Homo sapiens: one gene and its partners. Changing the gene in region 1 together with any one later gene gives a genetic interaction. Each region holds a gene or a part of one and is shown on either strand. Other genes may lie near its edges. The genes, in order: USP48, NF1 and NF2.

Evidence for each region.
Region 2: changes in USP48 (region 1) and NF1 together harm fitness more than expected from each alone (negative genetic interaction), as found in Homo sapiens cells (one large-scale study listed by BioGRID).
Region 3: changes in USP48 (region 1) and NF2 together harm fitness more than expected from each alone (negative genetic interaction), as found in Homo sapiens cells (one large-scale study listed by BioGRID).

The regions. Positions count from the first base shown.
Region 1 is NC_000001.11:21,703,110-21,706,763, forward strand, and holds part of USP48 (ubiquitin carboxyl-terminal hydrolase 48), read right to left. Parts: coding exon 3,635-3,654; intron 3,481-3,634; coding exon 3,358-3,480; intron 3,079-3,357; coding exon 3,017-3,078; intron 2,729-3,016; coding exon 2,618-2,728; intron 1,284-2,617; coding exon 1,153-1,283; intron 510-1,152; coding exon 403-509; intron 1-402.
Region 2 is NC_000017.11:31,335,926-31,339,579, forward strand, and holds part of NF1 (neurofibromin), read left to right. Parts: intron 1-407; coding exon 408-548; intron 549-709; coding exon 710-989; intron 990-1,442; coding exon 1,443-1,657; intron 1,658-1,893; coding exon 1,894-1,955; intron 1,956-2,099; coding exon 2,100-2,214; intron 2,215-2,778; coding exon 2,779-2,880; intron 2,881-3,654. UniProt on the Homo sapiens protein: Stimulates the GTPase activity of Ras. NF1 shows greater affinity for Ras GAP, but lower specific activity. May be a regulator of Ras activity.
Region 3 is NC_000022.11:29,680,133-29,683,786, reverse strand, and holds part of NF2 (merlin), read right to left. Parts: intron 2,349-3,654; coding exon 2,186-2,348; intron 768-2,185; coding exon of another isoform or gene 732-767; exon of another isoform or gene 1-731. UniProt on the Homo sapiens protein: Probable regulator of the Hippo/SWH (Sav/Wts/Hpo) signaling pathway, a signaling pathway that plays a pivotal role in tumor suppression by restricting proliferation and promoting apoptosis.

The DNA of each region.
Region 1 (3,654 bases):
ACCTCCACTTGACCCTGCTAAAGTTCCTTCAAAACAATCATTTCTGTGTGAAATCATATGAATTTATACTTTATTCCTGATCTTCCTCACTAGGTGCCTATAATTTTGAGAGAAGGTATTATACCTGCCTTCTTTATCACTGTATCCCCAGCACCTGGACCATTCCTGGAACACAGCTGACATTCAGTAAATATCTATGCATCAATTAATAACAAACTAAATTCTCATATAATCACATAACTGTTCATTTTCAATTATTGTCCAATTTCAATTCTGATGCCAAACAGCTCTGAAGGAACAAAAATGCAGTCCTAGGCAGACCCTCAGTGCAAATACAACAGCAAATCAAGCCAAAGAGCACGCTTGATCATTACTAGTCATTGCCACAAGAGGGACCAGTACCTTTTTATTATCCACAACTTTATGGACATAGATGGTGGCTTGAGTGTATTCACGCAGGTCCCTCTGCTGCTGACACAATAAGCCTTCTCTGCATTCTGGACAGAGTTCTTTGGGGGAAAAAAAAAAAGGGAAAACAGAAGTGGCTGAGGAATCATTGTTAAAGAATCAAAGATCTAAAAACATATGTCAAAGTTACTAGTGAATATTCATTAAACTCTTAGTAACATTTTCTTTTTTTGAGACAAGGTTTTGCTGTGTCACCCAGGCTGGGGTACAGTGGTATGAACATAGCTCACTGTAGCCTCAAGCTTCTGGGCTCAAGCCATGCTCCTGACTCAGCCTCTCAGCGAGTAGCTCAAGACTACAGATATGTGCTACATTTTTATTATTTTGTAGAGAGAAGGTCTTGTTATGTTGCTCAGGCTGGTCTGAAACTCCTGGCCTTAAGCAATCCTTCCACCCTAGTCTCTCAAAGTATTAGGATTATAGGTATGAGCTAGTGTGCTGGCCCAAACTCTTAATAATATTTTCTATTAACCACTATATTCTATTACATGCAAATGATAAGGAAATCCATTTACTGTCCATAAATAAACGTACAAATAATGGGATGATTATAATGAGAGTTTCCACCTAGGGAGTTGGGACCGCCGCATGATCTTTAACTTTAAGCAGACAACACTGACACACCCTTTCTTCTTAAAATGTCAGCTCTTAACTATAGAAACCGAAAGCAATATGAAAACTTACTGGGCTCAGAAATATACTGTGTTTCTGAAGGGTTTACATCTCCCACTTCAATTCTCGTGATTTTAATTACATGATCCACAACAAAGAGCTTTTGTATCATTTGCCACTCACTGGGCCATATGAGAGCTATACTGTGCAAAAAAAAAACACAACATGCCTTAAGACACATGGAAATTAAGAGAATTAACATAATCCATTAGTCTGCTAAACCAAAACCATTAACACTAACATTTAATCCAAAGGAATTAGAGAGAAAAGATACGTATCATCAACAAAGAATAGTTTTTCATACAAAGGAATGTTACCACAGCAGCGAAACTAAATGGACTGAAATTACATGAATCAACATGGTTAGATCTCAAAAACATAATTGAGTAAAATAAGTTAGTTGCAGAAGTATAAATACAGTATGGTGCCATTTATATAAAAAGTTTTAAATATGCAAGACATTATGTGCGTGCATTTTTTTTTTTTACAGAATACTTTCTGAGACAGATAAACTCTAAATTCAGTACAGTGGTTAGTGTGAGAGGAAGGGTGGGAGAAAGAGAAGTAGCAACAGAAGGATAAGCACTGTGGGGCCTTTAATCATATTTGAACCATTTAACTTTTAAACTGAATGGTAACACACATTTGCTTACTGGTGTATTTTCCTGGAAGTCTGACATTTGCAATAACAACGACAGGAAGAAAGGGAGGGAGGAAAGAGAAGAGAGATGCACAGCGAGAGTGAGAGAGCAACAGGGAAGGCGGGATGCAGAGAGGGAGGGAGAGAAAGAGGAGGGAGAAAATGTAGAGAATATATAAACTTTGAACTCCCTTAAATGATGTTAAAGTACTGAAATATGAATAATAAAACTCTAGCTTAACCCCAAGGGCATTTTTATTTATGTGTTCCAATTTCCTTTTCCTGATTTTCTGACAATGTTGGAAGCATTCTACCTTCTCGTATATCACGATTTTTGGTAAAATCGGGAGAAATTCACAGATGAACACCTCTGGAAGTACTTGAAGCATGGAATAAAATTTGGGTTCTAAGACCCTAGAATTCCAGATGACCAGTGCAGTGGCTTTGCTCTGCCACCCTGCTAGCCTCCTCCTTTAATTGTCTGAAGCCTGGCCATGGCAGAACAAAACCTATAACCAAGACCATGTTGATTCTGTGATTCTGGAAAAGAGGTCTCAGCACTGGTCACCAGCAGCGGGGGAAGAGAAAGGGTGGCTGTGTTGTCTTCAAGAGGGACAAGGAAAGAGCAAAAAGACAAATAGCCTCGGGCAGCCTCTTGTCTTTCCTGGAGAAGCAGTCTTCTTCTCTTTTAAAAGGGGAAAAAAAAACCCCACAATTCAGCAAAGGACTAAATTCTTAAAACAGACTATGTCAGATGAGAAATTTCCTAAACATATTTTATTAATCATCAAAAAGAGAAAAGAAGAAAAAAAAATCACATGAAGAGAAGGAACTCACAGTTTAGAATCTTCTTTGGTCATGGAAGCAAATGTAAACATGAGGCCCCCGTGGGGACACAAAAGAGCACTGTTCCCAACTGATGACACAGGGCTGCATCTTGTAGGCTTTCTACTCAAATGAGACAAGGAGGAGAAATATACCTAATTACTGCATGACGAAAGAGAAGATTTTAAAATAATTATTTCAAAATCAGAGATATATTTAAGAAAATATTAGTAATTCAATGTGTTTCTTAGGCTTATTCATTTAATTAATAGAAAAGAAAGCTTTCAGTGTATGCTGGTGAAAGTAACCATGAAGGAAGGGTACAACAAACAGAATCCACGATATCTTAAAAAATACCAGAGTCAACCAAATCAGTAACAATAAAGGAAATAAAACATATTTTGTTTCTACCTAACAAATTTCCGCCACTCTTCTACAAAGAACTGAGACACGATGTAGAGGACATCCGTATCCTAGAACACAAAAATCACAAAACAGTATCCGTCAATTCACCGCCTGCTTAACACAAATTCCTTATAATATACTTTGGTTGTCCTTATTCAAGTTTTATAAATAAAATGAAAACACAGTCCTCTACCAAAAAATAGCAGGCTGGAGTAAATCCCCTGGTTAGATAACTAAACAAATGAGAATATGAGAAGTTCTGGGTTGTTCTGAAATAGCTCACTGGGAATTTGGCAAGGGCTTTAAAAAGAAAAGATGCATTCTTTCTTTTGTGGGAATCATTATACCTCTGGCCAGTTACTGAGACACGGTCTGTTTTTATCCTGGAACAAATTTGGGAGAGAAGTCTTTTGCTCGTTTGCAATCATCTTATGTAAGGCTTCATTTTCTTCCCCTTCTCTTTCTAAAATCTGAAAGAGAATGAAGCAATCAACTGTCTCCTGCTGACAGCACATGACCTGCCTCCTCCCTACACCCCCGTCAGAAGTACAGTGTTAATTCCCCTGGGAAGTCAACCCAGGGAGGTGGCATGCCATTTCCCCAGATGTCAGTAGCGTTCAGTACCTTGCACTGTGAACAGCACT
Region 2 (3,654 bases), on another chromosome or scaffold:
AAGCAATCCGCCCGCCTCAGCCTCCCCAAGTGCTGGGATTACAAGCGTGAGCCACTGCACCCAGCTCTGTATTTTCAAATTACTATTTTATATTGATGCTACATTACTGTCTTAGAAAAGCATAGAGATACTTTGCAAGTGACTGAAGATAGTATTGATAGAGATTTAAAATTTTTGAATACCAATCTCTTAATCTCTGAAGGAGTCAAATGAATATACTCATCCTTTACTGGATATTTTATAATAAATTGTATTTACTGACAGGCCTGTAAATAAAATCTAGTATTTTTGAGGCCTCAGGTAAAATAGAATTTTCATATTGATTAGGCTGTTCCAATGAATATTTTTTAATTAAAAATTAAATTGGTAGAGTGATTAAAAACATGTTATTTTCCTTCTTCAACTAGATTACAGATCTGCTTGATGTTGTACTAGACAGTTTCATCAAAACCAGTGCAACAGGTGGCTTGGGATCAATAAAAGCTGAGGTGATGGCAGATACTGCTGTAGCTTTGGCTTCTGGAAATGTGAAATTGGTTTCAAGCAAGGTAATCACTTTTCTTTTGCCTTCTGTACTATAGCATATCTGTTTTATCATCAGGAGGTTTTTTGTTTTGTAATTACTTTTAAATTAAACTGAACTTTTTTGTGCTAAAACTTTGAGTCCCATGTTTTTTTTTTTAAAAAAAAAAATCCTGCTTCTTTACAGGTTATTGGAAGGATGTGCAAAATAATTGACAAGACATGCTTATCTCCAACTCCTACTTTAGAACAACATCTTATGTGGGATGATATTGCTATTTTAGCACGCTACATGCTGATGCTGTCCTTCAACAATTCCCTTGATGTGGCAGCTCATCTTCCCTACCTCTTCCACGTTGTTACTTTCTTAGTAGCCACAGGTCCGCTCTCCCTTAGAGCTTCCACACATGGACTGGTCATTAATATCATTCACTCTCTGTGTACTTGTTCACAGCTTCATTTTAGTGGTAAGTTCTAGGAAAGGAATTTGTGTTTACCAGTTCCTTTCTCCATTTTACTTCACCTGATCAATATAGATTATCTTATTTATGTTTGTGCTCTAACACCAAGTTGCTAATTTAAGCCTCCAGTAATGACATGAAATATTACCAAAAAGAAAATAAATTACTTCCATTCCATATCAAGCTATAGTAAAGATTTTCTATGCATACTTGTCATGTAGAGTTATCCCATAAGCGGAATACTCAGTGCCAGTTGACCATGTTCAGTTACCAGCACTAATTTGTAGATAAATGAAGCAAGGAGCATTAATACAATGTATCTAGAGGTTTGATTTAGGGAACATGATTATGTAATTTTTATATGGTATTCAAATTTTCTAAATTCAAAATGAAACATGGAACTTTAGAAATTAAAAAGTAATATTTTCTGTCTTTACTTGTTCCTTTATTCTCTTACAGAAGAGACCAAGCAAGTTTTGAGACTCAGTCTGACAGAGTTCTCATTACCCAAATTTTACTTGCTGTTTGGCATTAGCAAAGTCAAGTCAGCTGCTGTCATTGCCTTCCGTTCCAGTTACCGGGACAGGTCATTCTCTCCTGGCTCCTATGAGAGAGAGACTTTTGCTTTGACATCCTTGGAAACAGTCACAGAAGCTTTGTTGGAGATCATGGAGGTATAGAAGCCAAAATGATAAGAAACTAAGTTAAAATCTTTTTTTAAAAATATGTTAATACTATATAGAAGAAATATTGGTTTATTGTGCTATTTTGTACTTAATGCTTAAATAAAAACACTTGCATGGACTGTGTTATTGGTAACAGGTCACTTAATGACATCATAATAAACATTATTTAAACAGTTCTAAAAACATTTATGTACAATATGTATTCAGAGTATCCCCTTTTTTAGGCATGCATGAGAGATATTCCAACGTGCAAGTGGCTGGACCAGTGGACAGAACTAGCTCAAAGGTATGTCCTAAATTAAATATAAGTTGTAAAAATATGCATATTGTTGAAAATACAGCTATTACTGTATGATCAATGTTATAATTTATTATTTAGTATATATAAACACAAAGGTTTTTATAAGTTCTGTGGATCTTTTAATTGCAGATTTGCATTCCAATATAATCCATCCCTGCAACCAAGAGCTCTTGTTGTCTTTGGGTGTATTAGCAAACGAGTGTCTCATGGGCAGATAAAGCAGATAATCCGTATTCTTAGCAAGGTACCTGTTCCGCCCTCACTTCTCCCAAATATTTATGGTTCTCAAGTTGTAAAGCATATCTTTCATTTTTCTAAAAGACGTTTAAATTTGAGGTCAATGAAATATCTTATATGTTACTTATTAAGCCTTTAAAATGTATTTTGATTATTTATTGTAATTCTTTGAAGAAGTCTTCTCTAAAGAAGCTGTCTTTATATGTAAACTCTGATTACTTCATTAAGGAAGATGTCTTTAAAATAAAATATGTTGCCTCTTTTGCTAAGCAGGTACACTTAGTATTTTACCAGTTTTCAAAGCATTTAATTATATGGTAAGACTATAGCCTTGCATAAAATTATTTAATTTGTAATTACTATAATAATGTCTGACTCTTATAATGTAGAAATGTCAAAAAATAAGAAAACAAATGTACATTAAGCTAGCTACCAAGATCACCATAGCATGAGAAATCATTCTAGCATTTATTAAATAAGTAAATGTTCCTGAATTCATTCCGAGATTCAGTTTAGGAGTTAATGTTTTATTTCAATGAAAGTAAAATAAAAAATTCTGTTTTCCTAAAAGGCACTTGAGAGTTGCTTAAAAGGACCTGACACTTACAACAGTCAAGTTCTGATAGAAGCTACAGTAATAGCACTAACCAAATTACAGCCACTTCTTAATAAGGTAATTACTGTATAGAAAATGAGTGCATTCATTTTGGGTATCAGTGTTGAATGTTACTTTCTTTCAAAGAGTTTAGAAAATAAGATGAATTGAGAATAAGTTATAAAGAAAAAACTATAGTTAAAGTAGAACCTCTTAAAGTTTAGTTGTTTGAAGTAGTCATATTAGAAGAAGAGTAAGTATGGATAGTATGTTCTCAAGCGCTTGTAAGTTTTTGGTCTCATCAGTGCTAAAGGAAAGATAGGTATATATTCTTAATTATTTTATCTTATAACTATTAATTATCTGCTATTGCCAAGTACTGTTTTAGGCGCTAGAGATAGAGTACTAACAAAGCCCATAAAACTCACTGCCTTCATGGAGCTTACTTTCTGGGGTGGGTGTGGAGGTTGGGGAGTGAATGGATAATGAAGTAAACAAAATACGTAGTATGTTAGTGATTATTACTATGGAGAAATTAAAGCTGGGAGAAGTATACTTGATCGTCATAAGAGTTTGGGTGCCAAATGAAGATTATATTTAAAAGGAGTAAAATGAAGTGGCCACTGTTTTAGGATGGTCTGACCTTATCCCATTTTTATATTTAAGATATCTGGAAATCATGTTTTTGTATTAATAAAATGAAAAAGATTCGATAATGGCATGGTATTACCATCCAGTTCTAAAGTGGTTTAATTCTGTGATTTGAGTACAAAGGTATGCCAGACTTGGGAGAAATAACAGAGAAATAATACCTGTTATATTCCTGGTTTGTCTACAAGCATTCTAATTTTG
Region 3 (3,654 bases), on another chromosome or scaffold:
ACCGCTCCTCTCCAGGGTGCCGTGAGTGTACTGTTCCAATGTGAGTTCACTCTGACCACATCTCTGCTCAGCCTATGGAGAGGAAGCTGAAGCAGAGGTGGCTGAGCACAGATGAACAGACAGTCCACTCCCCGTGGACTCACATATCAGACCCTGTGCTCTGGGTTTGCTTTATTTGAAAAGAAAAGGGATGTGTGCAGAAAGGGAAAGCTCTAAAGGAAAATGAGCCAGCACAAGCAACCCTTTTGCCCCACTACCAGAAGCTGCCAGGTGTGACCATGGGTCTTGAGAGGCTGTCAACGCATAAAAGGTCTTGATCTTGAGTTAAACACACCAGTCTCCAAAGTGCCCAGATTGACCCCATTTCCATGCTAGGAGTATGCCACCAAGACAAAGGACTTTTAGACACACCTGACTGGACAAGAAGCCATAACCTTCCCCAGCCCAACAATGACCCGAGATGGGAAGAATGGCTGGTCCTACAGCCCCATGACATGCTCTTCGGAACGAGGCAGTCTTCTGGGGCCCTGGAGGCTGGTCTGGCTTCACAGGGTGGGTGCCTACTTTTAGACTCAAAGCATGCTGCGGCCAGTACCCAGGCACCACCTGCCCTCGTAAGGGCTCAGTGTGGCCCGAGGACAGAGACAGGCAAGCTCATGCACGGGTTAGTATCACAGAGGGCAGCACCATCACCACATAGAGAGTACCTGGGAACAACCTACTTTGAGGGCTCAAATGCAGATAGGTCTTCTGCCTTGGGCTTGAGGCTAAACCAGCAAAATAAAATGAAGAAAAACAAAAACATACCCTGTGATATCAACAATGCCATAAGTGCCATCTGCAAAATGCTTGGATAGGCCTGAAATCGTGATGAGTGATTTTGTTTGTTTTAATGGCTTGGAACGGGGTCTCTCCAGCTCTCACACTGCAGGTTTCTGTGGCTGAGGGCACTGCTCATTGCAGCAGCAGTGGAAATGGTGAGACTGTTCCTGGGACCCAGATGACAAGGCTGGGGGTAAGGGGTGAGATGGGGTGTCTGAGGCAGTTCATTTAAGGGCTGACTGGCTCACTGGCTCAGCCATCGTTTTACCTCTTTCCTTAATGACCGAGGCCTCCCTTGAACTCCCCTTTACTGTTTAATAATTTTGTTTTGGAAGGGAAGCCCAGTAAATTACAGAAGCCAGAGGAAAGAAGAATGTGGAATGTGGAAATGCCTTTCCTTCTAGGTTGCACTATTAAAAGGAATTCTCTACCCGGTGCCAGTTGTGACTGGAGTCGAGAGGTAGAAGTCAGGGCTGCCTACTGTACCCAACAACGAAGGCAGGCAGAAACAGATCCCCTGGAGTTTTCAGATACAGCTTAACCACTAAAAACAGAGACAGTCCATAAAACTGGAAGCCTATTTTAAAGACTGAGGTAAAGAATAAAAAATTAACTGTATCAGTATCACCTAAACTCAATGGACAGTCTTATCTTAATAACACCTATTTTATAGGTGTTAACCTGGTCCTGGGCTATCAGTTAAGAGCAGAGCATTATTTGGTATGAGAGGACCCTTCTGCTTGGCCCAAATGAGAGAGGTATGCTCTTGGGCTGATAATTAGTATGGAATTTAGCTTCTGAATCTCGACAATGCTGAAAGCTCAAAATACCAGTAGAGAAAGATATGAAACCATTTGCAAAGTAATAAAGTCTTCTCTTTTAAAACAAAGAGGTTCTTTCCTAGACACTTCCTTTTAAGTATGAAAAAAGTTAAAAATTCAGTTTGGTTTTATAGTCCTTGCCACTTAAAGACACCACAAGACTAGAGGGAAAGTCCATTCTCAATAGCCTCCATTTCATTCTGCTTTCTCATAAAGTAAGGCAGCTCCCTGGGTATAACACCCCTTGGCTTAAAAGGGCATTATGCTTTACTGCTAAATGAGGGCTCAAAATCCACCCTGTAACAGGGGTTCATTACATCAGAGCTTTTAACACAAGCTCAACTTCCATCCAGCCAATGGGTTCATAGTCATTGGCAGATTAAATTCCCTTTCTGGCATAAGTTAAAAAATTTCCTCAACTAAGTACATACAAAAGATGCCAATAGTCTAGTGACTTGGCTACTGAGGAAACCAGATGCCAACCGCACATTTCATTAATGATGGTCCTGATCAGCAAAATACAAGAAAGAGACCCTGGGTACCTTTTTAATGGTATTGTGCTTGCTGCTGCCACCCCTGTCGGAGTTCTCATTGTGCAGAATATCCAGAGCTGTCTCCCTCTCTTTCAGTTTCAAGGCCTCGATTTCTGTCTTGAGTTCATTGAGCTGCTCCTGCAGATGCTTGCTCTTTTCCATGTATTCCACTCTGCCGGCAAGAGGGTATCATGCATCAGGGCTTGGGCAGACAGTGAGACACGGCTCAGGTGCTCTGCGGCCCACAAGCTGCTTGGTGTGCGATCTAGGGTTTGAGGCCTGGGGTTCACGTCTCTACTTGGCCACTCACAGGCCATGGGAGCTTGGGCTGGTCACTTAAATGCTATGAATGTTTCCTCATCATTAAAATTGGGATAATGATCACAGGGCCGTGGTTAGGATTAAATAAAACAGTGTAGGAGGCCAGGCACGGTGGCTCCACCTGTAATCCCAGTACTTTGGGTGGCTGAGGCAGGAGGATTGCTTGAGCCCAGGAGTTGGAGACCAGCTTGGGAAACATAGCAAGACCCTGTCTCTATTTTTAAAAAAAAAAAAAGAAAAGGAAAGAAAAAGAAAGAGTAGAAAAGCCCTTGGTAAATTCTCATAGGGGGCTCTACAAATACCAGCTCTCATGGACAGCTTTTCGTTCTGTACAAAAAAAAAACATACGTGAAACAAGCTTCCTGGGAACCCAGAACAATCTCCTTGTCTCAACCCTTCTTGGAGCAGTAATTCAAGTAAACTCTTTTTTTTTTTTATAGGATCTTGCTATGCTGCCCAGGCTGGCTTTGAACCCCTGGTCTCAAAGGGCTGGGATTATAGGCATAAGCCACAGCGCCCAGCTTCACGTGATCTCTTTTGATAGGCCACATCCACATTCCCACTTGTTCTGAGACTTCATCTAAAGATGACAGAAGCTCACTCAGAAGCTCACCCAACGCAAGGAAGAAAAGATCCCCACCCTCACCTGAGAACAGATAACACTGAGTGACAGCATCTATGATGGTGAAAATCTGGAAACCACCCACAAAGTGTCCAACTACAAGGCATGGCCAGAAAAACCATGCAATACAAATACCAAAAACACTCCATAGGGATTGCCATGGTTAGTATAGAGACTCTGCCAATATGTGCAAGGGTAAGAAGTGCTATGGTCTGAATGTTCGTGTCTTCAAAATTCATATGTGGAAACCTAATCACCGGCTGGGTGTGGTGGCTCACGCCTGTAATCCCAACACTTTGGGAGGCCAAGGTGGGCGGATCATGAGGTCAGGAGTTCGAGACCAGCCTGACCAACATGGTGAAACCCCATCTCTACTAAAAATACAAAAGTTAGCTGGGCGTGATAGCATGCGCCTGTAATCCCAGCTACTCAGGAGGCTGAGGCAGGAGAATCGCTTGCACCCAGGAGGTGGAGGTTACAGTGAGCCGAGATCGCACCACTGCACTCCAGCCTGGGCGATGGAGTGAGACTCCAT